7 separate regions of the Homo sapiens genome follow, and all the other regions are reported to be linked to region 1. The links are microRNA targets in miRTarBase. Many come from high-throughput screens and were not tested one by one. Region 1 holds a microRNA gene; each other region holds the end of a gene's coding sequence.
Evidence for each region. The annotated mature microRNA hsa-miR-136-5p reads ACUCCAUUUGUUUUGAUGAUGGA and lies in region 1 at 2,338-2,360, shown strand. An mRNA with a match to its seed (bases 2 to 7 or 8) in the 3' UTR can be bound and repressed. Matches are read on the target gene's strand: a 7mer-m8 pairs with bases 2 to 8, a 7mer-A1 pairs with bases 2 to 7 and ends in A, and an 8mer does both.

Region 2: miRTarBase lists BTF3L4 as a target of hsa-miR-136-5p. Seed matches in the 3' UTR shown: 7mer-A1 at 3,502-3,508.
Region 3: miRTarBase lists SNX13 as a target of hsa-miR-136-5p. The part of its 3' UTR that is shown has no 7-base or 8-base seed match.
Region 4: miRTarBase lists OLIG3 as a target of hsa-miR-136-5p. Seed matches in the 3' UTR shown: 8mer at 1,237-1,244.
Region 5: the mRNA of BSND is a reported target of hsa-miR-136-5p. The part of its 3' UTR that is shown has no 7-base or 8-base seed match.
Region 6: miRTarBase lists MIX23 as a target of hsa-miR-136-5p. Seed matches in the 3' UTR shown: 7mer-A1 at 3,450-3,456.
Region 7: miRTarBase lists MADD as a target of hsa-miR-136-5p. The part of its 3' UTR that is shown has no 7-base or 8-base seed match.

The regions. Positions count from the first base shown.
Region 1 is chr14:100,882,379-100,886,472 of GRCh38, forward strand. MIR136 (microRNA 136) reads left to right here and starts at 2,324; the gene lies at 2,324-2,405. RTL1 (retrotransposon Gag like 1) reads right to left here. Exons shown (of 4, transcript NM_001134888.3): 4 at 1-2,496. The coding sequence starts at 2,410. It overlaps MIR127 (microRNA 127), which reads left to right and starts at 601; the gene lies at 601-697. MIR432 (microRNA 432) reads left to right here and starts at 2,105; the gene lies at 2,105-2,198. RefSeq lists a silencer at 3,314-3,608.
Region 2 is chr1:52,086,245-52,090,338 of GRCh38, reverse strand. It overlaps BTF3L4 (basic transcription factor 3 like 4), which reads right to left. Exons shown (of 6, transcript NM_152265.5): 6 at 1-3,627. The coding sequence ends at 3,581. Among named protein-coding and RNA genes, the nearest start is that of BTF3L4, 32 kb to the right of the region's middle.
Region 3 is chr7:17,790,536-17,794,629 of GRCh38, forward strand. SNX13 (sorting nexin 13) reads right to left here. Exons shown (of 26, transcript NM_015132.5): 26 at 226-3,757. The coding sequence ends at 3,510. Among named protein-coding and RNA genes, the nearest start is that of SNX13, 150 kb to the right of the region's middle.
Region 4 is chr6:137,490,085-137,494,084 of GRCh38, reverse strand. It overlaps OLIG3 (oligodendrocyte transcription factor 3), which reads left to right. Exons shown (of 1, transcript NM_175747.2): 1 at 1-1,886. The coding sequence ends at 733. Among named protein-coding and RNA genes, the nearest start is that of OLIG3, 2.3 kb to the left of the region's middle. RefSeq lists an enhancer at 282-781.
Region 5 is chr1:55,007,860-55,011,859 of GRCh38, forward strand. BSND (barttin CLCNK type accessory subunit beta) reads left to right here. Exons shown (of 4, transcript NM_057176.3): 4 at 355-4,000. The coding sequence ends at 769. Among named protein-coding and RNA genes, the nearest start is that of BSND, 11 kb to the left of the region's middle.
Region 6 is chr3:122,356,227-122,360,320 of GRCh38, forward strand. It overlaps MIX23 (mitochondrial matrix import factor 23), which reads right to left. Exons shown (of 5, transcript NM_001017928.4): 5 at 3,365-3,693. The coding sequence ends at 3,643. Among named protein-coding and RNA genes, the nearest start is that of MIX23, 25 kb to the right of the region's middle. RefSeq lists a silencer at 2,183-2,383.
Region 7 is chr11:47,328,522-47,332,615 of GRCh38, forward strand. MADD (MAP kinase activating death domain) reads left to right here. Exons shown (of 37, transcript NM_001376571.1): 36 at 137-183; 37 at 525-1,510. The coding sequence ends at 629. MYBPC3 (myosin binding protein C3) reads right to left here. Exons shown (of 35, transcript NM_000256.3): 32 at 4,045-4,094; 33 at 3,551-3,737; 34 at 3,324-3,360; 35 at 2,885-3,195. The coding sequence ends at 3,350. Among named protein-coding and RNA genes, the nearest start is that of MYBPC3, 22 kb to the right of the region's middle.

The sequences.
Region 1 (4,094 bases):
CAGGGGTAGGGTACCCTGTTATGATGGTCATGACGTTCTTGTTCAGTTTCACCCCTTTGGGGGTGACGACGAAGCCCAGGAATTCCACGGTTTGGCGGTGGAACTGGCTCTTGTCCAGGGAGCAGTAGACGTTGTGATGGCGGAAGCGGACCAGGACTTGGCGGACGTGGTGGAGGTGCTCCTCCTGACTCATTGAGTAGATCAGGACTTCCTGGCCATAAGAAAGCACAAAGAACCCTAGCATGTCCTTTAGGATGAAGTGAATCACGTTCTGAGGTATGATAGGGTCTGGGGAGAGCGCAAACGGCTGGTAGCTCTTCATCTCTTCAAGCTCCAAACCAAACGCTGCTTTCCACACATCTTCGGTGCGGTGCCCGTTCACGCTTTCCTCCACAATGGTCCCACGCAGCTCCAGTTTTGTGAACCACTCGGCTCCGTGTAACTGGTCAAACAGTTCCGGAATCATCTGTATGTAGTCCTGTCTGTTGGTCAGCATGTCCTGCAGGTCCCAGTATTCCTCCTGTAGCCTGGCTCTTTCTTGCATCCTGGCACCCACAGGTTCCCAAGGCGCGGTGGAGGGACACTCGTAAAAGGTCTCGCTGTGATCACTGTCTCCAGCCTGCTGAAGCTCAGAGGGCTCTGATTCAGAAAGATCATCGGATCCGTCTGAGCTTGGCTGGTCGGAAGTCTCATCATCTGCTTCCTTCGGGTTAAACACGTCGGCCAGGTCTGAGTATGGGTGTGGCAGTCCGGGTAGCAGGCTCATGCCGTGCCTCTCTAGGGCAATGCATGGCGGGGGCGGGCGGAAGCAGTTCTTCAGGCAGTAGGGAGAGTGGAAGGTGCAGCGGCCTTTGATCCAGTCGACTTCGGGGGCGTGGACTCGGAGCCAGCGGATGCCTAGGACCACAGAGAAGTTCGGTGAAGGTACGATGTCAAATTCGATGGACTCCTGGTGGTTCTGGTGGATACACACCAGGGGCTCCGTGTAGAGCCAGACAGGCTCGTTGCCAATCAGCGAGCCGTCCACGGATTGGACCGGCTGTGGGTACGGCTTCTCGTAGAGCTCGACGTAGTGCTCTTGGGCGAACTTCTCATCCATGAAGTTGCCGTCAGCTCCCGAATCCACCAGGGCCTGGACCGCGACGCTGTGGTAGGGGTTCACTCTCACCATGAGCAGCAGGAAGAGGTGGGCGCGATTGATGTCCGGATGGACTTCGCTGGGCAACCAGCTGCTGACCATCCACCTCTCTGGAGCAGGTGAGTCGATCCAGGTCAGGTTCCGGGGGCGGGCCTCGGGGGGCAGCCTGAGCATAGCTCTTCTCTCTGCCAGCTTCTCTTCTATTTGCAGGATGAGCACAATCAGACTGTCTAGGGAATCCGGCTGAGGGACCCGGAATAGATAGTGCCTGATCTCCTCGTTGAGCCCCTGGCACAAGTGGGCCTGCAGGACTTCATCTGGCCAGCCCAAGATGGGTACCAGGCTCTGGAACTCATCGATGTACTCAGTGGCAGAGCGGCCGCCCTGCCTGATGGTGAACATGGCCTCTTCTGCCACACGCAGTGCCTGGCGGTACTCAAACACTTCGGACATGGCCTCCAGGAAGGCTGGGAAGTCTCCGATCAGGGGGCTGTTTTCCTGCAGTAGAGCTTTGGCCCATTCTAATGCCAAGCCGGACAGGTGATTGATGACATAGCCAACTCTCAGACGGTCGTTATAGAACATTCTTGGGTAGCTCTGTAAGGTCAGTTGGCAGAGTACGATGAACTCGTGGAATTCTCTGCGATCGCCAGAGAAGTGCTTTGGGGCGGGCAGTTGGCCTGCATTGATCCCTTTGATCAAGATCTCTTCTGCTACTCTCTGTTGCTCTTTGAGGTCTTGCATTCGGAAGTACAGCGAGATGATGGACCTCACCATGGCCATAAGTTCTGCGGTTGAGTGCTCGGTCTGGTTTTGCTCTTGAGGAGTCTCCTCCCTTCCCGATTCCTTCAGGTCAGTGTGAGCCTCTTGTTCTTCTCGGGCTCCCGATGGGTTGACTGATGCTTCTTTCATCCTATCAGATGCTCCACTGAGTGGATCCCCCCTTGCCTGGTGTGAACCGTTGCATGACTCCTCCAGGTCTTGGAGTAGGTCATTGGGTGGATCCTCTATTTCCTTACGTGGGCCACTGGATGGCTCCTCCATGTCTTGGAGTAGATCAGTGGGCAGCTCTTCCATTTCCTGGAGTGGGCCACTGGGGGGCTCCTTCTTTTCCTGGGCTGGGCCGCTGGCTGGCCCTGCCTCTCCCCGCACTCCACTGCCCGACGTCGCCTCGGTGGTGTTGGATGAGCCCTCGGAGGACTCCATTTGTTTTGATGATGGATTCTTATGCTCCATCATCGTCTCAAATGAGTCTTCAGAGGGTTCTATCATTTCGTCGGATGGAAAGGAGTGTATTCTGAAGATTGGTAAGGTTGTGATGGCGTCCAGTCAGTAGCTGGGACCGTGGAGATCAGAACCTGGTGGTGGAAGGGGAGTGTGGGGAGTAAAGGCAGTAGTTTAGGATCTTGTGAAGTGGCAGTATCAGGGTCTCAAGGACAAATCAGATGCCCAACTAATCAGAGCAGAGAGAAATGGGGGAAAGCCTTCTTGTATCGAGCCAGCCTCTTTGGCTGGTCACTTGGGGTGCCCCCAGGGAGGGAAGATCTGTCAACCCCTGACCTGCCTCCCAGGCTTATTCAGTCTGCCTGTCCTGTCCTTTTCCTCCATAGATGTGAGAAATTCACAGCCCATAAATTCTGTGGCTGGGAGCAGCCACCGTGGCAGGCGGGTACCTGGCAGGGTGCACAGGCTGCTCCATTCCCCCCTGGCACATGCACCTGGTCAATCCTCTTTTCCTGCTTTGGTCACCTGAGAATCACAGAGGTCACATCTCAGCACCATCCAAAGCCACCCCTGGCAGGCTCAGGGCTCTGGAGCAAGCCCAGCCACCTTGGTTGTGGAGCGGGAATCTCTAGCAAAGATGCCTACTGTTTCACCAGTGCAGTGGAAGAGGAGAAAATGGGCACTTGGCCACTGTCCCGTCAGTTGGGTCAGCAGCCCAAAATAGTTCTTATTTCCTTCCCCATGTTCAAAATAGAAATTTCAGGGGGTGTGTACAGGTCTGGGTTTTTTTTTTTTTTTTCCATAAATTTTATAACATACCTACTATGTGCTGGATAACTGCATATTTGTTACTTGATTCTAACTCAGACTTTTGGCCAATTTCTCTTTCTCGATTTGGTCTCCTTCCAATGCTATGTTCTCCCGACCTCTGAGCTGTTGAGGAGATCTTCAAATAATCTCCTTCTCTTCCTACAATCTCCACTCTCCCAGGACTGCCCTCTTTGTGAGGCTTCTGGAACTTCACACATCTGGCCTCAATTTCACCAGTGCAAGCATATCTGCACGCCTCTCCAATCTTATCCTCCCAGGTCCCCTTCTTAACGCCAGTGGGTCTGGTCTCCTCTTTCTAGCAAATATCTTTTTCTCTCTGTTGCTGGTTGAGCCCTCCCAACAGACATGTATCTGGCAGAGTTGGGACATTGAGTGTGGGGGTTGGGGGGAACATGTGACATCTTTGGAATCTGACGGTCCCAGAGTGGATTTTTGGAAATCTAGTGTTGGGTGGTTTTAGTGGGCTGAGACAGAATTGAAAGGGAATGTCTTGGTTGGGGTTATTTGCACATTTCTTCTCTGCTGGGGCAGAGCAAATTAAGCTTTGATTATCTGATAGATTAACTGTAAAGCTACTGCTCTTTATAAATTTAACACCTTTTGTTACTTCTGAGTTTTCTTCTAAGCCACTGGACCCATCCGTAAAAAAAAAAAAAAAAACTGCGTTCCCCCTTACGTGAAACTCATTGGCTAAAATCCAAGCTTTCCAACAGGATACAAAATTCAGATCTGCTGTTTCTCAAAATTAAGTACACCCTTGTTAGCATGACACTTAAATTTGATCATGCAGTCTCTCTGATTAAAGCCTTCCACTGTTTATTTACTGTCTGCAATATTAAATCCAAACCTTCTAGCGTAAACATATCTGACATGTAAACTCACCAAAACTATTCTCTGGTTA
Region 2 (4,094 bases), not on the chromosome of region 1:
TAAGCCATAGCTTAGGAGATAACACGCTTTAATCATCTTCTACCTTCACCTTAATAATTTAGGGGATTCTAAGAAATCATGACTCTTCTAGGTACCATTTTATAGATAAAACTGAGGCTCAGAGAGCAAGGCCATCATTGCATTATTAATGGAGGACACTATTCACACTGCAGTCTATGAAAATGACACCTTCTGGAACACAACAAAAATAAGTGATGGCTCCCGAAGTTGTGCACCGCAGCAGCCCTGTCAGAAAGGTTACAATGTAAGGGTAGATAGCAGAATTGATCTCTATCTAAAAACTTGTGCTTTTCCCACTATAACATACTATCTCTTACCATGGTATCTTATTTATGGGTATGTAGCATACCTAGGGTTAAACACTGAATTAAAACAAAGAAACAAATCAAACATATCGCAGATATGGGTTTTTCATAAGAACTTCATAGGCTTATTAAAGTGAATTTAATGGAATCCTGTAAGCACTAGCTACTTAACAACAAATTAAGGTGCTTGATATATTCTTAAACCATTACTTAATGGGAAAAATAAGGGTAAAACAGATATAAGAGCCCAACCATTTACTTTGGACTTGTCCAAAACAGATAAGGCGCTTTACAAAGAACAAAAACAAAAACAAAAAAACCTCAAAGGACTAACACAAAAATTAAGATCATAAATCAATTTTCTGCAGACATTTCTTGAATTATCCCAAAATTTTAAGGTCAATTTCCCCCCCAAAATGTTTTTATCATTGTTATCTTGGCAAAAAATACCTAATCTTAGTAAGAAGCACATATTTAACTAGTTATTTAAATATAAAAAAAGATTTAATTCATATTTATGCCAAGAACACTACAATTTACAAAAGTTTCATCCAAACTCTTACCCTATGTCTACCCACACCAGAGGGAGGAACATGTCTTTGTGGAGAGGATTTCTTTGAGACTCTAAATATGCTTTGTTCAGGAAAGGGGAAGATACAAAAATATAGAACAAAAAAGAATATTGGCTCATTGTACACAAGAGAGGCCAGCCATTAAGAATTGTTATCAATACAATAAAAGGGAATACTTGGCCAGAGATCCTCTAGATAAGTAGCTAAAATGTGATCAAAAGGAGAAAGAGGAAGAAGCAAATACACAAACGTTTTATGGGTATTAATAAAAATAAAGACATCTCTGAACAAATGATAAAATCCCTTCCCTGAAAAATTTCAAATGAGATTCACAGAAATGCAGAAGCAGAAGAAACTTTAGATTTAGAAACATCTCATTTGGGCTGGGTGCAGTGGCTCACGCCTGTAATCCTAGCACTTTGGGAGGCCGAGGCAAATGAATCACCTGAGGACAGGAATTCAAGACCGGCCTGGGCAACATGGTAAAACCCCATCTCTACTAAAAATACAAAAAAAAAAAAAAAAAATCCCAGCTACTGTGGAGGCTGAGACAGGAGAATCGCTTGAATCTGGGAGGTGGAGGTTGCAGTCAGCCGAGACCACAACATTGCAGTTCGGCCTGGACAACAAGAGCAAATCCCCATCTCAAACAAAACAAAACAGAATAAAATCTTATTTGACTGATGATAAATTTCAGAGTAGTTAGATGACCTGTCCAAGGTCACATAATGCCAGAGTTTTGACTAGGACACAAGTCTCCTGGCTTCCAAGTGTGTGTTTTCTTTCATGTGCTATACTGCCTATTATTTATCTGTCCCTAACCACTTGAAGTGGTTCCCCCTAACTCTGCCTCCACAATGTCCCCCTTTGGGACAATTAGAGAAAGAATTCTGGACTGTGTAGACTGTGGAGCTACTGACCTAACACTGGATGAGGCATTATTTCAAACAATTACTGCACTAACATTCATTTACAGGTGGAGGGTAGAGGAATAATATAAAAGGAAATTCTGTACACAACATCAAGAAAAGCACAAGAGGAAATATTCTCCTCTTTTGCACTGTTATTTTATTTTGTTTAGTCCATATATTATATAAAACATAACAGGAAAAATGAACGAATTTATAAAATAAATTGAGGTGTTTGGATGAAAAAAAATACAAGAGCTTTGCCTTCATGTCTACAGATCTCTTAATATATTGTTGGTCTTGCACCTTAGATATCAAATAAAGATATCTAGCTTGACACAAAAGTTGGTAGCTGCAAGGTTAAGCTGTATTAGTTTGATGATGGGCCAGGAAATGATATATTTTCTAAATTTTGTCCTTAAATATTGGCTGTAACAAATGCTGATATAGCAAAAAGTAAGCTTCTATTAGACAGCAAGAGGGAAACTTGAGTGAATGAATGCAACTTACCTCCAAGTCCTCTTAAAGGAGGTAAAAAAATAAATACTGTGTTTTACCAGTGCTCCCCTCAAAGCATTATTCTAAGCATGCAGGAGGGTATAGTGAGCAGCTACAATAGTAAGATCCAACCCAGAGGTAGGTTCAAGGCCAAGAGTAGGAGAGTGGTTGAGGAAATCCTCCTAGGGCCAGTACCATTTCATAGAATGCCCATTTGTGCTGGGAGATGAGTCTATGGCCTATTTTCTTCTGATTCAAAAGGACATTCCCAATTTCAACCTTGCTGAAAAACAGGCATTTTTGTACCTGCTGTTAAGAACAGCTAGGATACAGGATAAGGCTGGCATAAAATTATTTAGCAAGCACATGCTAGCTATTCCAGTTTGAAATCTACCAAACTGTAACATCAGGGAGAAATAAAAAGTTGAAGATGAAGTTGTTCCTCAAGCTGAGGGAACAAAATCTTACAAAAGGAGGGATTAGGCACTCGCTAAACTCTATATGGAGAACATCCTTCTCAAGCTAGGTGGAAGATGAGGAAGAATATTACCAAAAGCTGACCAGGCCATTTGGAGACCAAAAGGAGAGGAAAAAAGGCATTTAGGAAGCAAGCTAGTAAAAGAAGTTCTTCTGGGTCTGACTAGGTAAGTTAATCTAAGGCAACCATACCAAAGATATGTTACCCATTACTCCAGCATGAAGCCAGTGGCAAAATACCTCAAGATATTTTAAATCCAGAGAAGTGTATGAAAAATATGATAGTTAACCAAGCAAATTAAAATCAAACCACTAATGGTAAAAATCTCTTCAGATTTGAAATCCAAGATACTCACTTTCCATTAATTCTGTGTCTTACGGGGGGAAAAGAAAAGTAACAAATGTAAAGATTTTTTTTATTTCTACTGGGGAGGGAGGAGGATAAATAGAACTGTTTTCCAATTTGCTCTCCACTGTATACACACATACCCACACACATACATAAACATACATACACCAAAAATACCCCAAACAAAAAACAAAAAAACCAGGAATCAAAAACCAAAACACCCTCAAACTGCACCAATACTTCATATTTTGACCAAAAAAATATCCTGGGAGGAAGTGCAAAATGCAAAATCAAATGACCGAAAAATGCTGAACAAACAGCATTATTAATATACAAAATATTTATATTACTGAACTAGTAACAGGTGATGTTCTCCATGTCTGTAAAACTTTGGAACCACATAGCTGATTTGTTAAATCTAGTCCATGCCAGCTTCCAAAAACCAAACTTTTAGTTAGCTTCATTCTTTGATGCCTCATCAAAATTTTCTACAAGATCTGAAAAAGAAAAACAAAGTATATGAATCAAAGAATACAAAAAAGGAAAAAGAGGTAAATGGAACTCCTAACTTCTAACCCCCGAAAAAATAAAATTAGTACAACCAGAATTAGCCTGAAAACATAAGGAGGCAGAAATGAACTGGTGGCATTTTACTAACAATGATTTAATTATTTGCTTAGGACAGTAATCCTAAGGAAATGTTCATCTTTTGTCTATGCAAATTACTGAGGTGAATAGCATTTTCATATGTCAATTATAATTCATACAGAAATGTTATAACAATAGCTATGCAAATTTATAATCACAGTGATTTCAATTTAATAAATCCAGGCAGCAGAGCTTTGTGTGACAATTTCTGATTCTAGGTTCTAAGGTGGGTGCTTACGTTGTTTTTCATTAGATCCTATCCACATTATTGTGAATCAATTTAAATTCATGAGCTTACAATCAACACAAACCTAAA
Region 3 (4,094 bases), not on the chromosome of region 1:
AGTTTCTTTAACACTGTGGTGTAAATTATTTGCCCCATAAAAGAAAAAGTTAAATTCAGTCCATTTAAGTCAGTAATCACTCAAGCACTCATCTATCAACCTGGAACTTGAATTGGTTGATATCTAAAAGAAAAGAAAATACAAACAGATACTAAAAATAAGACTACTGAGCAAGCATCTTAAAAGTAACAAAAATACATTACTATTAAATGAACTCAACAAAAATGTTTGTTAATACTTTATTAGTATTTTCTAATGGACAGAACACAAACCAAATAAATTTTTTAATCCTTTTAGTTGAATAAAAATAACTGACATTCTGATTGTTGTTTCTTCTTTGTTAAAGAAAGAAAGTATTGATAGAACAGTTAGGCACACAGTTGACACTTACTGTACAATGATATGCACACATTATCTTTTAACAATTATAATCCTAAAATGTGCTCTTCATATTTTTTCCCTTGTAATACAGGAGCCATGCTCCTAAAAGCAAAATTTACTACTAATAAAAGAATTTTCCAAGGAGTGACAAAAAGACTTTTAAAACAAGTCCTTAAATAAAAGGATGCAGCAACAACGGAATGTAAGTTGTTGGATTAAGAAGACAGTTTAAGCTACATCTCAAAAAATTAAAAATTCATTTATCTTACAATTACTCAAATACACATGCATTAAATGAAAATATTGCACAAAATTAAAATTTTAGATTGTGAAATTTATATCATTCTTAATTTTTATAAAAATTGGTACACTTTCTGGTAGCACTTAACTGATTGATTTTTCTTCCCAAATACCAGCAGCACAAACTTAAAATGAACAAACTGAAATATTCAAGAAAGTTTTTGTTTTTTTTTTTTTTAAAAAAATTAAGGCTAACCAAGTGCATCCATTGGTCAATGGCACAATTGATTTCAGCAACTATTTGGAATATCCTAATTATAGGAAATGCCCATCTAAGTGATATATTTAAATAATACAATCAATTTTTTAAGGTGAATAAACTATGATGGTTTCTAAATAGTGTACATGTTACCTGAAAAATCAGAAAACACAAAGAATGATTAATTTCGAAAGTTCTTGCCTAAAGGCACCACTGACTTAAAAAACATTCAAAATCAAATACCAGAAGACATAAAGCCTCTTCATGTATATATTCATATATGCAATAAATGCATTAAATGTAACTTTATTAAACATAGTACACTGTACTTGACTTATGGTTAAATATTTTACACACAGCTTGACCAAGTCATTCAAAAAGTTATCTCTAATTTTAGCATGACCACAGCTCTTTCTGATGTAAAAGACAGATGTGCATAGAGAAGGTGCACCACCATTTACAAAGACTATCATTTGACATTTTCTGCTTCTGAAATATAAACTCTTCTAAACAAAAATTACTTTAAAAATCCATTTACTCAAATAGTTTTTGGTATGATTGCAGTTATCTTGCAGGGCTCTATTTTGAAAATTTGCAATATTACATGACCTTTATTTCCCTAATTGATGGCCAGTGCTCCTCACATTATATAGAAATGCTTTTTCACATGTACACGTTAGGGTCTTACATGAATTATTCTGTATACTGTTAGATTTATTCATGTCAAAAATATATTTGAAATGGGCAGAGGCATATATGAAAATCACTGCACTTATGGCCATGCTGATGCTTCCTACAGACATGTTTCATGTTTCAAACATTTTCACTTTTAAAGCCTGGGGCTCAGGGAGGGGCCAAGGCAGGGAGACACCCTGAGAAGAAGAAATACTATTTCTTCCACCAGAGCCACTAAGGATCTTTTCTCACTTGCAAGTTGCAATGAAAGGGATTTCATTTTATGTAATTCTGAAGACATGCAACATATGCTGAATATATGCATACTATAAGTATGCACAACAGCATTATTAATAAATATGATTATTATAAAGCTTTAAAGGAAGGCTTTATTCTGTTAATAACCCTCACTTTGTAAGTAGGATCTAAGTGAAAACAAGACAGTGATATCTTGTTCCAATCTTAAAGCTCCCAAATAACTGGGATACCAATACTCTGTCCCTTTATCTTAAGCACCCAGACTTTCTTTTAATACCAGGATCTTGGCTCAGTGGTCTGATAAGTAGCTTCATTATTTTAAGGTTTTAGTGTTAAATATTTTTAAAACAAAAAAAGCTGACACACCCAAACCCTTAGGCAATGAAAGTATTTAAAACTATGCAGAAATCCTGCATAGAAGGGATGTGAATACTTCTAAGATGGATAAAATGGACAGTCAGAAAACTATAGGAAATACAGAAGCTCCAAAACTAGAGAAAGTATTTTATTTTATTGATATAAAATTAATTTATGGGTTTAAAGGTATACACTGAGGGGTCTTGCCTACTAGCTTTATTTTGTAGAACTTTACATTATGTGAAATATAAATAAAAGCATATTTTTAAAAATATTATAGTTCTTTTTTCATCATTTATTTTCATATATGTACACTGTCATAGAATTAGGAATCTGTATGTTTACTATGACTAATAAGCTCATTAATCATTTAATTTGCTATTTCTGCAGTTACCTAAGGCATGTCTAGATCACACAATTAAAAATTATCATATGGTAACTTTCCAGACTACTATTTAAATTTCCATATTTTTAGAAGGACAAAATGTATTTGGCAGTTCTTCCAATAAATTATATCTTCTGTATAATCAGTAATCTGTTAAAGATAAAACTAATAATTTTGAAATTTAAATGAGAGCCACCACATGCTTCTTTTTGCACAAAGAATGCCAAAAGGAAACATAAAATTGAGTACCCTAAGAGCAAAACACAGCCCTTAAAGCACACATAAGAATAAAAATTGTTGTATACCAATGAATAACAAATCCAATCAAATTCTGTGTTTGATTGGTTTTATTTTATACTCAGCTTTATTTTATATCACAAAACTGTAATTCAGGTATAAGGTTATTTCACACTTTAAGGGCATTCTGTCTCTTTCTCCAGACCTGAAAGAGATGTTTCAAGGATCATTCACCTGGCTAATCCACAATATATCAAAATGCTGACAGACCTACAAAATCATTATGCCAAACAAACTCCTCCAAGTCGTACATTGCACAGTCTCCAACTGTTAAACAAATTAGCCAATTTATCTCTGAACCATTGTTTTGTGCTTTCCTTAGCTTTCATATATACACTCTGGCACTTTGTCATTGCTGGAGAATGCTGATTAGTTTGAAATGGAAGAAACCAACGCCATTCTTGCTTGAGATGGGGGCAGTTTTCTCTCAATGTTGCAAAATATGCACCAAATCATTTAAGACACAGAAATCTCTCTTGGTAGTGGTGGATTATAGATGAGAATGAGAAGAACCACAGACTTATGGATGTATTAATAATCTATTTTGAGACACTAAAAGACTGGTGCAGACACAACAGTATTTGAGTTAAGCCCCAGAAGATCTGTCCATACCATTAGTCCTGGACAAAATGAACACCAGCTTCATAGAGTGGAGTGTCACCTTTTCTGCAAAGAAGGCGCTTGAGTAGTTTGAAGTTTCTGTTTATATTTCTGCATCTGCTTTGACCGTGAATGCAGTTTGTTGAAAAGTTCACGGAATTTATACTGTGGAAATAAGGTTTCTAAAAAGCCTTCCAAGAAGACATAAACCATTCTCCTATTTAATTGGTTGTGCTGAAACATTTCAAAAACACGAAGAATACCTTTCCGTGTTGTCTCAGCCCCAATAATGTGCTTCAGCTCATCTAAATGAAGTGGAGGAAAACACACATAATTATTCAAAGGAAACACAAGGCCTAAACTCTTAAATGTTCTTAAATTAAGGTACACAGCAGAGTAACTGATGAACAGTAGGTAACCAGTTAATGCATTTCAGCTATGTACTATAGCTGAAACTTAATATGCATCTTTGCATGCATGCATCTATTTACGCACTTAATGCAAAAGCTACTGGGAGACAATATAGCACAGGTGTAAGAGATAAAAAATAAAAAACAGTCTCAAAGATCCCAAACTATGATTACAAACATGTCCCTTAATACCCATGTGATACTTACCCACCACCCTGACTCTCTTTTCTCA
Region 4 (4,000 bases), not on the chromosome of region 1:
CCACCACCACCAGGAGAGCCGTCTCAACTCGGTCTCGTCCACGCAGGGCGATATGATGCAGAAGATGCCCGGGGAAAGCCTCTCGCGGGCTGGCGCCAAGGCCGCGGGAGAGAGCAGCAAGTACAAAATCAAGAAGCAGCTGTCGGAGCAGGACCTACAGCAGTTGAGGCTGAAGATCAACGGACGCGAACGCAAGCGGATGCACGACCTGAACCTAGCCATGGACGGGCTGCGCGAAGTCATGCCCTACGCGCATGGGCCGTCGGTGCGCAAGCTCTCCAAGATCGCCACACTCCTGCTCGCCAGAAACTACATCCTCATGCTCACCAGCTCCCTGGAGGAGATGAAGAGGCTGGTTGGCGAGATCTATGGGGGCCACCACTCGGCCTTTCACTGCGGGACCGTGGGCCACTCGGCCGGCCACCCCGCGCACGCGGCCAACTCCGTGCACCCGGTGCACCCCATCTTGGGCGGCGCGCTCTCATCTGGCAACGCCTCGTCACCGCTGTCCGCCGCCTCACTTCCCGCCATCGGCACCATCCGGCCTCCCCACTCGCTACTCAAGGCGCCCTCCACGCCGCCCGCGCTGCAGCTGGGCAGCGGCTTCCAGCACTGGGCTGGTCTGCCCTGCCCCTGCACCATCTGCCAGATGCCGCCGCCGCCGCACCTGTCCGCTCTCTCCACAGCCAACATGGCCCGGCTGTCGGCCGAGTCCAAGGACTTGCTCAAGTGAGCAGCGGGCGGGCCCGGCTGCCAAGGAGGAGGGAGAGCGGCGGGAGGGGCCGCGGTGCCGGGCCGGGAGGGAAGAGGGAGGCTGCACGCTCGGCCCACGGGAGGGCAGGCTCCGGGGCCCGCAGCCTCCCACGCTGTCTGAGAGATCTCAGACTCCACTTGACCCCCGGAGGGAAAGGACCAAAATCAAACCGCAATTTCTAGGTGGTAGCAAAGGGGGACTCGAACCAGATGTCGTGTGTTTTGCATGCATGCTTCTTTTCCCCATGCCGCGCCAGTATTTTTCACTGCCATATGCTCTTGTCAAAACTGCATTTGTTGTATAAAGATGGGATCGGTGTAGTTAAAAACTTGCGAAGGGACTTTTGAGTTGGCTTTCTCTGACTCTGTGTTCTCGCTTTGGAAAAAGACGGCCATCCCTTTTGTGCAAAACAAATGTAAATATTTTCTTGAGATGGATGCGATTATGATTGTCTCTGTCCTTGCCACAGTTTTTCTAGAGACAATGGAGAGAGAAAGAGAGAGAGAGCGCGAGAGAGATCAAGACCCAAGTTTTGAATCTCAACCGAGGTCCAGGGCATGACACCTCCTATGTGGGTTTTCCTTTCGACGCAGTGTAGGTCAAAAGAATGCATGCACGCTTCTAAATGAATCTTGTCTGAATATGTCGTGCAGGCTGTGGTGCCGTTTTCCTTGTAACAAGGATTTATTAGTGAATTATCCCAAGTACTCCATATATCTGTCTGTGGTTGTATGAAATGAAAAAAGGGGCAGAGTGCAAAGACCCACACTCACGCACACGCGCTTCTTCTCCCACCCCCACCCCCTTCAAACTTTATTCGGAACCTTCCTTTGCTGTTCTGGGGCCGCTATTGTAAAAGCCTGGGCTCCCTCTAGTAGCTTGCGCCACCCCCCCTCGCTCAGTTATTCTGCATGCGGGGTTGGCTCTCTCTATTATCAGCTTTGAAAACTTATCCTGGTTTTGGGAGGGGTGCCGTTTTTATTTTCCTGAACATTTGCTTGAAATATTTTGTTAGGGCCTCAAAGACGATACCTGTCTTTATTTTTTATATATTCTTGATAACTATGATATATTTATTAATAACCAGTGTTTCTGGATGAGATTTCAAATAAAAAAGAACCTTTAAATCGTGGCTTTGCCTTTGCCTAAAATCTTAGCAGATGGGGGTAGTGGGATAGGAAACACGTGGACCAGGTAAGGTGTATCTGGGTGAGGAATTTGGATGGGTGGGCAGATGTGAAGGTTTTCCGTGATTACGTACAAGTAAACAGGATGGGTAAATTGGTGCTGATTTTTGGAACTAAATGTCCTTCAAGCGGGCATTGCCCACATTCATAGTATTATGCTATTTGAGCTCATTTCTCTGCAGTAATCAGACCCTCATAAACTCGAGAATTGAATTTTAAAAAGTAATCTGGAAACTTAAAGTGGCAGGAAATGAGAGGTGGAGTGTCACTACGATGACTGTGTTGGCAACAAACAAGGATGAAGCAGTACGTTAACTTCTTTTCACTTTAAATTGAACTTGTGCTTTTCCCCCCATGTTAAAATCTAGTATACATTTTAAAAGTCAACAAAGAGTGGTCTTAGAAAATAGTCAAATACTCACCCTGCTTGCCTGCACCCTCGGAAGCATGGCCTACAGAGAAAGGGAAGGCTTCTCTGCTTTGTAAGGTGAGCTCCGGGTGAGTCAAACCACCACCCAAGTCTCAGAATCTTGCAGATTTATAGCGAGAATCCTCCCTTCTTTCTTCCCTTAGAAGATTGCTGGTCTGATTAGCTATATACATTGGGCATCTTCTACAAAAAAGTCAGCTAAAACGGGAGTCATTTTAATAAACTACTTTTCTCTTTTCACCTCCCGCCATAACACTTCTAAATGGTTTGTCTAAGCAGGAGTAATCCAGCAAGACAGTTTTGTCTATTTGTTTAAAGGGGACAATAAATCGAGCTGTAGTGAGGATAGCCCCAACAACACAAGCCTCCATTTCCCTCTGAAGAAAATAGAACCCTGATTGAAATGCAACACCCCAGGATTTGCTTCTGAATAAGTTGTAACATCACCTAGATGTTGGTTGAGGCCAAAGCTCCTCTCCAATGGGGGGAGGCTTGTGGTCTCTTTCTAGAATCCAGCAAGGAGAGCACGTCTAGGAAGCATTTGCGTTTGCCCTGTCTTTCCTGGGTCCCTGATGCCTACCCAGTACTGCCTCTGTCAGGCAGAGCATCTCTGTGGGTTTCTCTTCTATGCAAATCATCCCCCTCCATCCCTTTTTACCCTCCCATCGCTACCCCACTCTCAGCCAGGCGAAAGACCTAAGTTAGCATCTACAGTGGAGGGTACTTGTTTCCACTGGTTTTAGGCAGACAAATGGGGGAATAATCGTCTGTTTCCCAGGGGTGATTCATTTCTCTGGGTGAGGAAAGAGCCTATTGAAGATTTATTTGAAACCAACACAAGGCAGCCCTCCAGTCTTTCCCCAGAGTTTATTATTTAGAAAGGGGAGGGGTGGGAGAAGTTTCATCAATCAGGAAAACGACTTTCTCCTTAGCCACTTGCTTCTTTTGAGTCCTGTTTCCAAAGGCCTGGTTCTGGGGAAAGACTCAGTGCCTTACAGTTGGCCTAGTGGTGGGCCTCATGCCTTCTCTAAAACTGAGTCTTAAATTGGGTTATGCAAAGGAATAAAGCCACATTCTTTACACTAGGACAGTCGTGGATTTTGTGATTGTGCTGCTGAGACAGGAAATCCTTGATTTACAGCAGTGGTCAGTTTAAAGAGCTGTGATGTCCACTCACATAAGCTGAAAGGAAGCTTGAGCACAGGGAACTCTATTGCAAATTTTGCAACTAAAATGGGAAATAGACACCACTTCCAATATCGAGAAGATCTCTTAAGTGAGCAGAGCTCTTTTCTGGGATACAAAAATTCTTTTGGCTTCGAGACCAGAAGAGAGGATTTCTTTAAGTACAGGACAGGAACCCAGTGAGGAAGGTGATTTGAGAGCCACGTCATCTGAGGTTTCTGGATTTATTGGGAAGAAATAATCTCCATTCGCTCTCCGGGAAGGCCCTTCCCTTGATGCCTAGGCGGGTCTGCTGGGCATGTGAGTTTGCAGGCAGACTTTTACTGTCATTGCACTTCCCTTTAAATACTCGAATTATCGACGCCAGAAAAAAGATTTCATGACCGCAAAGGTGAAAATGGGTTTCGGCCGGGATTTTTTTTCGTTGTAAACTTGTCACTTTCT
Region 5 (4,000 bases), not on the chromosome of region 1:
ATGAGGGAGGCAAAGACACCCGGGGACACCTCAGTGTAACTGGGCCTATGAGCAACAGAGGAGAACCCTGAATAATTGGAGAAGTAGATGAGTGACCTGGTTCAGATAATAGCATAGTAATAGCCCTATTTCATGAGCACCTTCTATGTGCCAGGCACTGTGCAAAGTGCCTTGCACATATTATCTGCTGTAAACCTAAGAAAGAACTGCAGGAGTGAATTCTGTTATTGGGAAGAAACTGAGGCCCGGGAAGGTGGATTATCCTACCCTAGGTCTTGCAGCTAGCGGCTGGAATGTGGACCCAGGCATTCTGACTCAGAGATACCCTTGCCCTTGTGGTCTTTGTCCCTGCAGCCCCCTGGCCTGTCCCCAGGGCCCTGCCCCCTTGGCTTCCTTCCAAGATGACCTGGACATGGACTCCAGTGAAGGCAGCAGCCCCAATGCATCTCCACATGACAGGGAGGAAGCTTGTTCCCCACAACAGGAACCTCAGGGCTGCAGGTGCCCGCTGGACCGCTTCCAAGACTTTGCCCTGATTGATGCCCCAACGTTGGAGGATGAGCCCCAAGAGGGGCAGCAGTGGGAAATAGCCCTGCCCAACAACTGGCAGCGGTACCCAAGGACAAAGGTGGAGGAGAAGGAGGCTTCGGACACAGGTGGGGAGGAACCTGAGAAGGAAGAGGAAGACCTGTACTATGGGCTGCCAGATGGAGCCGGGGACCTCCTCCCGGACAAGGAGCTGGGTTTTGAGCCTGACACCCAAGGCTGAGATGTTTGTGCTCCGTAGCTTCTAGTCTGGAACTGCTGCTGACCCCTGTGTGACATCACAGGGCCTCAGTTTCCCTATCTGCAAAATGGGATGATATGGAGGTTCAATGAGATGGTGGCATTTTGAGAATGGTAAAGAAATACACAGGGAGGGGATGATGACTATTAGTGGACTCTTGTTTTTCCAATAGTTAGTGGTCTTTGGCCAACCTTTGAAGGCAAAATATGATTTGTTGAGGTTTGCAGCAGCTGAAGCCCTCAAAAGCATTTTCCACCTTCCCCCAAAGCTGACCTCTGAGAGGAACCTTCCTTGGTGCTCCCTCTGGGCCCCTGATCCTTTGTGAAGGCCAGTCAGGTTTCCCATTCCTATTGTGTCTTATAGTCCACTTGGTAGATGGCGTGATCCGTCTTTACACAGAGGGAGCCTCATCTCCTCCTGGGCCACATTCCTCCTGCAGCTCCCATCGCTCCTTGGCCAGGACCCAAAACCTTCTGTGACTGACCCCTGCTGACCTCATTCTCTCTGCTCCTCCAGTTCCAAGCCTAGCCCCCCTGCCCATCTTGCGGCTCACACTCTTGCCCAAGCTGTTCTCCTCCACCAGGATGCCCTTGGCTCCCTTTTCAGCTTGGCAAATTCGTGCTCACCCTTCAAACCCCTACACAGATGACCTCCCTTGGAAAGGTTTTCCTGATGTCGCTGCCTCCTGGAACCAGGTGGTCTTGCCTCTCTGCGCTGCCTTTGGGACCTGTATATTTGTCAGTGTGGCATGGCTGCCTGCCTCCCGTTGAAGGGCAGCATCTTGACTTTACTCACCTTGAGATCGCCTGTGCCCAGATGGGCCTTTGGCCTGGCCCAGAATCGGTGGTCATCAAGGGTGTACAGAACTCACCAGGACCCAGGAACCTGTTGCAGATAAAATCACTCTCCCCCACGTTCCCAACTTTTAGACTCACAGCCCTCTTACTTCCCAGCATTCAAACTTCTAAATGGCCTGTATGTATTCACAAAGCAGGCAAAAAGCCCCCAGAGGAACACCACCCCCCACCCCTGCCTCTGGAATACATTTGCTTTGACTTGGAATTGTAGGTGAAATTCATCTTCCTGGCCTACTTCAGTTTGAATCAGTTGGCTAGCCAGGTGCGGTGGCTCATGCCTGTAATCTGAGCATTTTGGGAGGCTAAAGTGGGTGGATCACTTGAGGCCAGGAGTTGGAGAGCAGCCTGGGCAACATAGCGAAACCCTATCTCTACTAAAACTACAAAAATTAGCTGGGCGTGGTGGTGCACACCTGTAGTCTCAGCTACTTGGGAGGCTGAGCTGGAGGATAGCTTAAGCACAGGAGATGGAAGTTGCAGTGAGCCGAGATCGCACCACTGCACTCCGGCCTGGGTGACAGAGTGAGACCCTGCCTCAAAACAAAACAATTGGAATTGGATGGCATTTAGTGAGCATCTACTATATGCCAGATATTGAGCTGTGATCTCTAGGGGTAAAGAGACATGAACTACTGACACCGTGCTTGCCTTCAGAGGGCTCACAATCTAGTGAGCTTGATTTCTGTGAGTGCAGAGCAGAAGCTGAGGTGGGAACAGAGAAGTAAAAAATGGACACACCAGAGGCAGAAGAGTGACAGCCTCCCAGCTGTTTGGGGCAGTTGAGTATGGTGGGGAAATAGCTCAAGCTGTCTTTGCAGCCCCTGAAGACATCACTGTACCCTATTGAACCATCTCAGGGTGATGCTATTGTTACGCTGATCCCTGCAACGCTTGCCTGTGCCCCAGCCCAGGATCCTGGCAGCTGCAGAGAAAATGGCAGTAACACTACCTCAAACCAGGACCACGCCCTCAGAGCCTGCACCCTGGGCCACCTGGGAGTCAGAGACCTTCACCTGGGCTATGGGGTTCTGGGTTGAGGCTGGGGTTCCCGGCCTAGGGAAGGGCTTCCGGGTTGAGGCCGGGGGTCCTGGCCTAGGGAAGGAGATGCCCCTGTGTGCTGGGTTACAAGGTCATGGCCCTGGGAACACACTTCCTTTTCTTTCTGGGTCATTTCTGCCTCTGCAGTGAAGGATGCCACAGGGTACACCCTCTCTGCTGTCATGACTCAGGACAGGAGTTCCTGGTCACAGCTGAGTCTTCGGATGAGGTGAGGGGTAGCATGCTCCTGTGCTCTGTTGCCTAAGGCAGGGCAGCCTACAACCCACGTTAGAAACAGCGTCAGCACTAAGGGCTAAAATAAAACTACTTTCAACATTTAAAGGGGTCATCTTCATTCACCTGCAAATTCTTTTCTTTAAAACCACCCCTTCCCTCGGGGCAGGATACGTGAGGCCTTACGCCTGACGGGCACCAGAGGCCCTCTTCCGGAAGTAAGCCCTCACTGCAGTGGCATGACCGTGGGGTGTGCTGTGTGGTGCTGAATCTCAGGAGTGATTCCCCACACCCCTGAACCACAACCGCAGTGGCTTTAGACTTAAACAAGAGCCTCTGGTTGCTGGGCCTGCCAGCAGGAAGATGGTAACCCTGTTCTAGAGTTAGCATCTGCAGGGGGCTTGGGGTAGTGGAGTGAGATGGTGAGACCCAGGCTTGGTCTCCCTGGCTCTTGCTGCATGATGGGGAGACCACACACCTGATCTGCCCAGGAAGGTCCCGGTTGACACCGACTGCCTCTGCTAAGTTATTAGGAGGCCCCTTTCACGCTCGAAGATACCTCATTTGGATGATACAATGTTACCTTACCTACTCTGTGACCTTTGACAAGTCTGGTTGCCTCCGTAGCCCTCAGCTTTCTCATGTGCAAATGACAGATGAAGTGCGCATATCTTGGAATCTTGGAAGTGATGGGGGTGTTTGATGGGACCTATCTTGTCAATGCCCTGCAGCCAAAGACCACTGGGAGCACACCTCACCTGTGGTTAACAAGCTGGGTTTCTTCTTGCAGTAAGGGGGAATGAACACCACAGCGAACCAGGGGGAGTCTCTGAAAGAGGTATTAGAAAGGACTTGTTACTGGATTTGGGCCAGTGCTCAGTGGCTTGGCGAGGGTTTAAGAAGCAGGCCTTTGCTCTGAACCGGCTGCTGTCAGGAGGCGGGGCTCATTCTATGACTGGGTGTCTTCTTCAACCTTATCTAGGATAAAATAAAATCATAAAACACTGTGCTTCATGCCCCTGGCCTTGCCAACTTGCAGTCCCCTCTAAGAGCATCAGAGCCTCTGGGGCACCCCCTCTCCACT
Region 6 (4,094 bases), not on the chromosome of region 1:
CCTCCACCTCCTGGGTTTAAGCAATTCTCCTGCCTCAGCCCTCTGAGTAGCTTGGATTACAGGCGCCCGCCACCACGCCCAGCTAATTTTTGTATTTTTAGTAGAGACTGGGTTTCACCATGTTGGCCAGGCTGGTCTTGAACTCCTGACCTCAAGTGATCCACCCACCTTGGCCTCCCAAAGTGCTGGGATTACAGGCGTAAGCCACTGCGCCCGGCCAGCCACTGGGGGCTTTTAAGCAGGAGAAATTTTGCTTGCTGGTTTTTAAAACTGGAGTGGGAAAATCATTCAATCACAGCAATTATCTTTAAGTGCCAGTAGATTACCTATCCCTTCTTAATGCACCAGGAGATACACAAATGCACCTCAGCCAAGTCCTCTTCCCTTGGACAGGGGTGCCCCCAGCTGGCCATTGCATTCAGAAGCTGGAAGCCATGTTTGTCTAAACCTCTTTAGAGGTTGGGAATTTCCTTCCCAACGTAATTCTGTGGGATAAAATCAGGCTTGTCCTGGAAATGCTACCCCAATCAGGAGTGGTCACTTTCTATCTTCTTTATTCTTCAATGTTTATGCTCAATAATAAAGATTCTTTTTTAAGGGTCAATCAAGTTCATCAAGGGTACTCTACAAGCCTAAATACACACAGAAATCATGAGTAACCTAAGTAATCTCTAATATGTTTGATTAGATCACCTAACTCTAGATAGAATGTTCATTTTTCTTGATTTAAAAAGGGCTCACACATTTGATTAATCTCCCATTTTACAAGATGACAAGTTTATCACTCCTGGACACTGGCACATTAGCAGGGACTACTATAGCAGCACTGGGTACATTATCACTACATTTCCCAAACTGGTATCTTCAGTGTACAACTTATTATTAAAACAGGATCTTGCTCTGCCACCAAGGCTGGAAGGCAGTGGCACAATCATAGTTCACTGGAGCCTCAACCTCCTGGGTTCAAGAGATCTTCCCGTCTCAGCCTCATGAGTAGCTGGAACTACAGACAAGCACCATTTAAAAATTTTTTTTAAGAGACTGGGTCTCACTGTGTTGCCTGGGCTGGTCTCGAACTCCTGGGCTCTTGATCCTTCCGACTCAGCCTCCCAAAGTACTGGGATTGCAGACATGAACCACCACATGTAGTTCGGAGAACAACTTATAAAAGAATGACATATTAGAAAACACCCTTTTTATTACTGCACTTACTTGGTACATTTCAATCTCAAGTTAAAGCAACTTTTCAAAGACAAGGGCATTATATTTTCCAGTCAGCTGAAAACAGTCATTTGCAACCCACTCTCCATCCCATTCCTGATTTCCTTCTCTATTTTTTTTCATAGAACTTTATCACATTTTAGCATACCATATAACTTACTACTGTCTTCCTTCACCAAATATAAGCTCTTTAAAACCAGGTATTTTTGTTTTGCTGAGTGATGCAACAATAGTGGTTAATAGTGCCCAGGAAGGCATTTAAATATTTGTTAAAAGAATTTGCAAATGTATCATCATAGGTGTTTCTTCGTATGGCTGTCTTCTGTTCTGCCAAGGAAGGGCCAAACTCATCTGTGAATTTTCGCACCTTCTACTTCTTTTCTGTGTGTGTGAGTTGCTGAATCCTACCTTTCAGGCAACAAAAGCAAATCAACAAATTGTTCTAAGGCAGTAATTACACACAGGACCCTTTTCCAGCAGGCAAATCAACTTTCAAAAGCAATGTCATCCATCTTCCTTCATTAGTTGAGGCTCTAAATGCCATTCATCACACTAAACCTATTCATTTATACTGTCACTCCATGCTGCCGTCATTGCACATTTTTCATATGTTACACTGGAATGATTCAGGCACTCTACTAACATAATTGGATTAGCTAGATGGTATTTTGGCAGACCTGAAAATCTGGAAAGACTGTTAATGAATCCTTTCCAAGGATCTGAATTCCCTCCTGAGCAGCAGAATCAGGGAGATCTTTGTCTTTCTATTCTTGCATCCATCCTTTCAACTCACTTATCTACCCAAAAATTACTTACTCAACTTTATATATAAAGGCATTTTTTACTGCAGACCTCTAGGAAATTTTTGTTGAGACTAGATTATAATCTCCACAAAAAGTGTCTGACCTACAGTAAGTGCTCTACGTTTTGTTGAAAGAATGGTGGGCACTTTATATCTTTATCACTCATTTCCAAATGCATAATCTGATGGTGGTCAATGTACACAGGCCCACCAGAGACCCAGCTGGCTAATCTAACTGGGCCAGAGCCAGGTGGCTTGTTTAAATCACTGTGGTGGGCAGAGTCCTAAATTGGCTCCCCAAGATATCCCTCAGACCATGAAACTTGGTGTCTGTGGTTATTACATAATCTGGCAAGAGATTTACAGATGTAATTATGATTCTCATCAGTTGACTTTGAGTCAAGCAAAAAGATGTGGTAGGCCTAATCACACAAGCCCTTTAAAATCATTTTGTCTGGTTTGTAGCAGAAAGGGAAGTCAGATAGATTCCAAGTATGAGAAGAACTGAATGCACCACGCCCAGCTTAAAGATGGAAGGAGCCATGTGTCAAGAAATGTGGGTAGCTTCCTGGAGCTGAGAGTGGTACCTGACAGTCAGCAAGGAAATGGGGACCTCAGGACCACGATGCAACAATCTGGCAACTCAATGAGCTTAGCAGCAGACTCTTCCCCTAGACTCCAGACCAAAGCCCAGCCTGGGACTCAGCTTGATTTCAGCTTTGAGACCCTAAACAAAAAAAATTCCAGTCAAATCTGCCCATCTGGCCTACAGAACTGTAAGATACTGTTTGTGGTAATTTGTTAAGCAGCAACAGAAAACTAGTAACATAACCACTCCATACACTAGAAAGTGGTTTTTTTTGCAAGGACCAAATCCTGTAATTACAGCAGGTTTGTTACTAACTCATTTGCTGTCATGCAAGCTCTTCCCTGCTCTTCCCTTTCCTGAATTTCTGCTTTCCTTTTCCATGACCATGGAAATACTGTCCAGGAAAGAATTCCACCAAAAATTAGTTTTTATATCTGAAAATAAGATCAGTTAAGGTACTAAAAGAAAACTTCTTTGGGCATTGTCCAGCTTATAATACTGCCCTTTTATAATCAACCCACAAAGATAAATCAAGGAATAAACTTATCAATAACCAAAAAGGTCCACATCCATGCCAATAAATTTATAAAAATTAAAAAATACACTACAAATCAGATATTGAAAGTGCATGCAAATTATCTTATGAGAACTGTCTTGCAACCTGACAGGATATTAAAAAAATAGAAACTAAAAATTCAATAAATAAATAAAAAGAGAACTGTCTCAACATAGAAAACAATCAAATAAATATGTACACTGAGTCAGAAAATTATTTTAATAGTTACAAAAATTTTTTTTTTTTTTTTTTACAGAATCAGTATAAAATAGCAGTTGATTTCTCCATAATTATCAGAATTATTTATACTTGAGGTCTTGGCTAAGTGGGGCTGAAATCAACAAAAGGTCTTGGACTGTTGGCTCAGAAATCATCCTAGAAAGCCCGCCCTGTTGATATCTGTCATGCTTAGCTCTTATGAGATGACCCAGTCCTTAAAAAAAAAAAAAAAAAAAAAAAAAAAAGAATCTCTCTTTATTCATTCTTTGGAGGCTTGAAGTGAATTCGGCAGCGTTCATTAAACACCTAAAATATTGAAACAGAAACAAAAGTCATTGAGTTATCCTGCGTAAATCAGGCCTGGAACTAAATTCAATTTAGTAGGCTCCAAAAGGCTATTACCATTTTTGTCCTAAGTCAACAGATTTAGGAAACAGAAGAGTTTCCTCAGCAGTTCAAACTGACTTATGAGGTGCCAAATGCACAGAAGGCCTTGACATCCATTTACAAGACAATTCTAGTATTTTAATAAAATTTAAGTTACTTCGGGAAAAAATCATCAAGAGCCAGGTAATTTAGTTACTAGCAAACATTTCAATTTCATATTCTGGACATTTTTTAAACAACAACACAAAAATATCTAAAATAAGTTAAATAAAGAATGCTCAATAACTAAATGTCCACATGGAACTGTGTTAAATAAAAAT
Region 7 (4,094 bases), not on the chromosome of region 1:
TAAGCTGCTGCAGCCACTGTGAGAGGCCACAGAGGGGAAGGGGACCCTGACGCCGGGCGCTGCCGCCTGGGGGAGCATGGCACGATTGCTCTTAGTGTTGAACTTTCTGTTTTGTCTCTTGCCCGTCCGGTTTTAGTTCCTGAAATTAAAGAAGTGGTGAGCCACAAGTACAAGACACCAATGGTGAGTGTGCCGCTCAACCCTGATGGGCCACGGTGCGCAGGGCTCCCTGGGGGACCTTCGGACAGGAGGAGGGGAGGGCCCTCTGAGCGCACAGGGGTGAGTGGGGACCTCGTTTTGTTGCCAAAGGTTCAACTCAGGCTGAAACAGGTCTTGAGCCCTGAGAGACAGACACACACACACGGATCCCCTCTCCCATGGGGACAGCTTCCTTGCTTGGAGCTCACGTTTAGCCCAGAGGCCCATGCCCAGTGTTAGGGCAGGAGTTGCCCATTGGCAGATCCTTCACATATGGAGATGGAGGAGTCTCAGTATCGTGATCCGCCTGGTTTTCTCTCCTCTAGGCCCACGAAATCTGCTACTCCGTATTATGTCTCTTCTCGTACGTGGCTGCAGTTCATAGCAGTGAGGAAGATCTCAGAACCCCGCCCCGGCCTGTCTCTAGCTGATGGAGAGGGGCTACGCAGCTGCCCCAGCCCAGGGCACGCCCCTGGCCCCTTGCTGTTCCCAAGTGCACGATGCTGCTGTGACTGAGGAGTGGATGATGCTCGTGTGTCCTCTGCAAGCCCCCTGCTGTGGCTTGGTTGGTTACCGGTTATGTGTCCCTCTGAGTGTGTCTTGAGCGTGTCCACCTTCTCCCTCTCCACTCCCAGAAGACCAAACTGCCTTCCCCTCAGGGCTCAAGAATGTGTACAGTCTGTGGGGCCGGTGTGAACCCACTATTTTGTGTCCTTGAGACATTTGTGTTGTGGTTCCTTGTCCTTGTCCCTGGCGTTATAACTGTCCACTGCAAGAGTCTGGCTCTCCCTTCTCTGTGACCCGGCATGACTGGGCGCCTGGAGCAGTTTCACTCTGTGAGGAGTGAGGGAACCCTGGGGCTCACCCTCTCAGAGGAAGGGCACAGAGAGGAAGGGAAGAATTGGGGGGCAGCCGGAGTGAGTGGCAGCCTCCCTGCTTCCTTCTGCATTCCCAAGCCGGCAGCTACTGCCCAGGGCCCGCAGTGTTGGCTGCTGCCTGCCACAGCCTCTGTGACTGCAGTGGAGCGGCGAATTCCCTGTGGCCTGCCATGCCTTCGGCATCAGAGGATGGAGTGGTCGAGGCTAGTGGAGTCCCAGGGACCGCTGGCTGCTCTGCCTGAGCATCAGGGAGGGGGCAGGAAAGACCAAGCTGGGTTTGCACATCTGTCTGCAGGCTGTCTCTCCAGGCACGGGGTGTCAGGAGGGAGAGACAGCCTGGGTATGGGCAAGAAATGACTGTAAATATTTCAGCCCCACATTATTTATAGAAAATGTACAGTTGTGTGAATGTGAAATAAATGTCCTCAACTCCCTTCAGGCTCCCTGGCTGCCTTGTGTTAAATGACACCTCCTCTTGGCTCAGGCCTGAGGAAAGCTATCCCTGGACTCTAAAAAGTCACCTCAGGCTGGAAGGAAGGAAGGAGATGAGGTCATCCATGTCCAAGCTTTGGCACACGGAGGCCCCAGCTCCCCTGTTCTGGGCTCCTAGAGCAAGGCTGCGGGAGGAGCTTTCCTTCCTGGGCACCTGAGGGCCCTGCAGAGAGCTGGGCTGCCATGAATGAACAGGCTGCTAGAGGGAGCAGCCAGACTGGGCGTCCTCACCTGAACTGAGATTAAGTGAAAGAAAGCCAAGGCCCTGGCCCTCTCCGTTCCCTTACAGGTGGGTATGGTCGAGAGAGGTGTGGTGATTCAGCCAGGGCCTCCCACAGGGCCCCGGACTCCTGGCCAGGAGTGTCTTCCACTGCATAGAACTCCCAGAAGCTCCCCTAGGAGCTGCCTTCATGGAATTCTGTCCTGGAAAAACCTGGCTGCACTCTCAGGGAATTTGAGACCTGCTGGCTTCCCGCGCCCAAAAGGAAACAGATGCTCGGATTTAGGCTCCCCATGGGGGAAGTGAGAGCAGAGTGGGGCCCTGGCCCTGACACCTTTCTGGTGCCCAGCGTCCTGGACTGGATTGGGTTGCTGTCTCCCACCGGGGATATGGGTCTGAACCCGCTGCTGGCTTATTGCTGGCTGGGACTCCAAAGCCACCTAGTGCAGCTCCACCCCAGCACAATCACAACACTGAGATTCTGCCTCACCCCACCTCCAGGCGGTTGTGACCACGGCCCCTGGCACAAGGATCACGCTGAGCACCTGGGACCAGTTAAATGCACTTTCCGCTGTCACAGCTCAGTTTCATCATCTGAAGAGTGAATGCTGTAGGGGAAGACAGGTTCCTTCTAGCGTTAATGTTTTATGAACTCAGAAACCACTCTGGGCCTGGTTTAATCATCGGGAAAACAAAACAAAAAACAGTATCTGCTCTCACTTTGCTGTGAAGATCAATGTCCCTGGGCTTTTTTCTTTTTTTTTTTTTGAGACATGGTCTCACTCCATCACCCAGGCTGAAGTGCAGTGGCATGATCTCGGCCCACCTCAAACTCTACCTCCTGGGTTCAGGTGATTCTCCTGCCTCAGCCTTCCAAATAGCTGGGATTATAGGCGCGCCACCTTGCCCAGCTAATTTTTGTATTTTTAGTAGAGACGGGGTTTCACCATGTTGGCCAGGCTGGTCTTGATCTCCTGACCTCAGGTGATCGGCCCGCCTCCGCCTCCCAAAGTGCTGGGATAACAGGCATGAGCCACCGCACCTGGCCATCCCCTGTGCATTTTTATGAAAACAGGCACACCGAAATTGAGAAGAGTGAGTTCTCTGTGACTGCACTTATCTTTTATTGCCCAATAAACATTGGGAAGACATAGCAGGCCAGAAAGGCCTGTCCCCAGACATTGTTTCTTGAGGCCACCCTCCTTTTACCCCAAAGATCCAGGGGCTTCCTTCAGGAGCCCTGTGGACCAGTCTGTGCAACACCCACTCAGGACTGCCCGACAACTGCCCTGCTGATCCCCCATCGCAGCACAGGAGACACACTTGTCACACATACATCCAACAGTAGGGAGGGGTTTCCCCAACTTCCCTCCAGGCTCCTGGCACGGGGCTGGCATCCGGTTGTACCTGCAACACAGGTTATCTTACGAGTGAATGGAGGGCCCCTACAGCCTCCCATTTACTGATGGCTGCCCCAGGACCAAGGGCCAGGGCTCAGCCACTGACTTGTGCCCTGGGTGTCGGGTGGTACATACCTGGCCATCCCCAGGAGCCAGCCTGGTCACTGAGGCACTGCAGAAGAGGAGGCCATGTCACTGTGTCCTCCCAGCCTTCTGGAAGCTATTGCCCATCTGGGCGTGGCAGGGTCCGTGCCCTTGCAGCCAGGGCAGGTGCTTGGCCGAGGACAACGGAGCAAAGCCCAGGGTCCCCACTGCCGCCCGCTCTTCCCATCTCCCAGGCCCTGGCCCCGAGGGCTCCTCACCTCGCACCTCCAGGCGGCACTCACACCGTGCCTCGCCCTGTAAGTTGGTGGCCCTGCAGACATAGATGCCCCCGTCAAAGGGGCAGGGCTTTCTAATCTCCAGAGTCAACACTCCCTGCTTGCTGAACATGCGGAAGCGGGCGTCTTCTCCCAGGTCCAGGCCATTCTTGAACCAGGAAATCTTGGGCTATAAATAAGGTAAAGAGAGGGAGGGAAGCCATCCAGGCTGAGAGGGGACCTGGCAGGGACCCAGGGAGACACATCTGTGTTTCTACTCGGGGGGTCCCACGAGAGTCCCTGACTATGCCCAAGGCTGGAAACAAACATGGAACCAAGAGTGAGTACCATGGCCCTGCCCAGGGGGAGGAACCCGGTCCATACACCCCAAGGTGGAGAGAAAGCAGGGGAGACAGGCTGGGGAGAGGACTGCTCAACGTCGGGGCCTGTGAGCCCTGCCTCCTGGTCGGCCTGGACCAGCGCCTAAAGTTCCCTACCTTGGGGCTACCCCGGACAGCACAGCAGAGCATAGCAGTGTAGCCCGCGA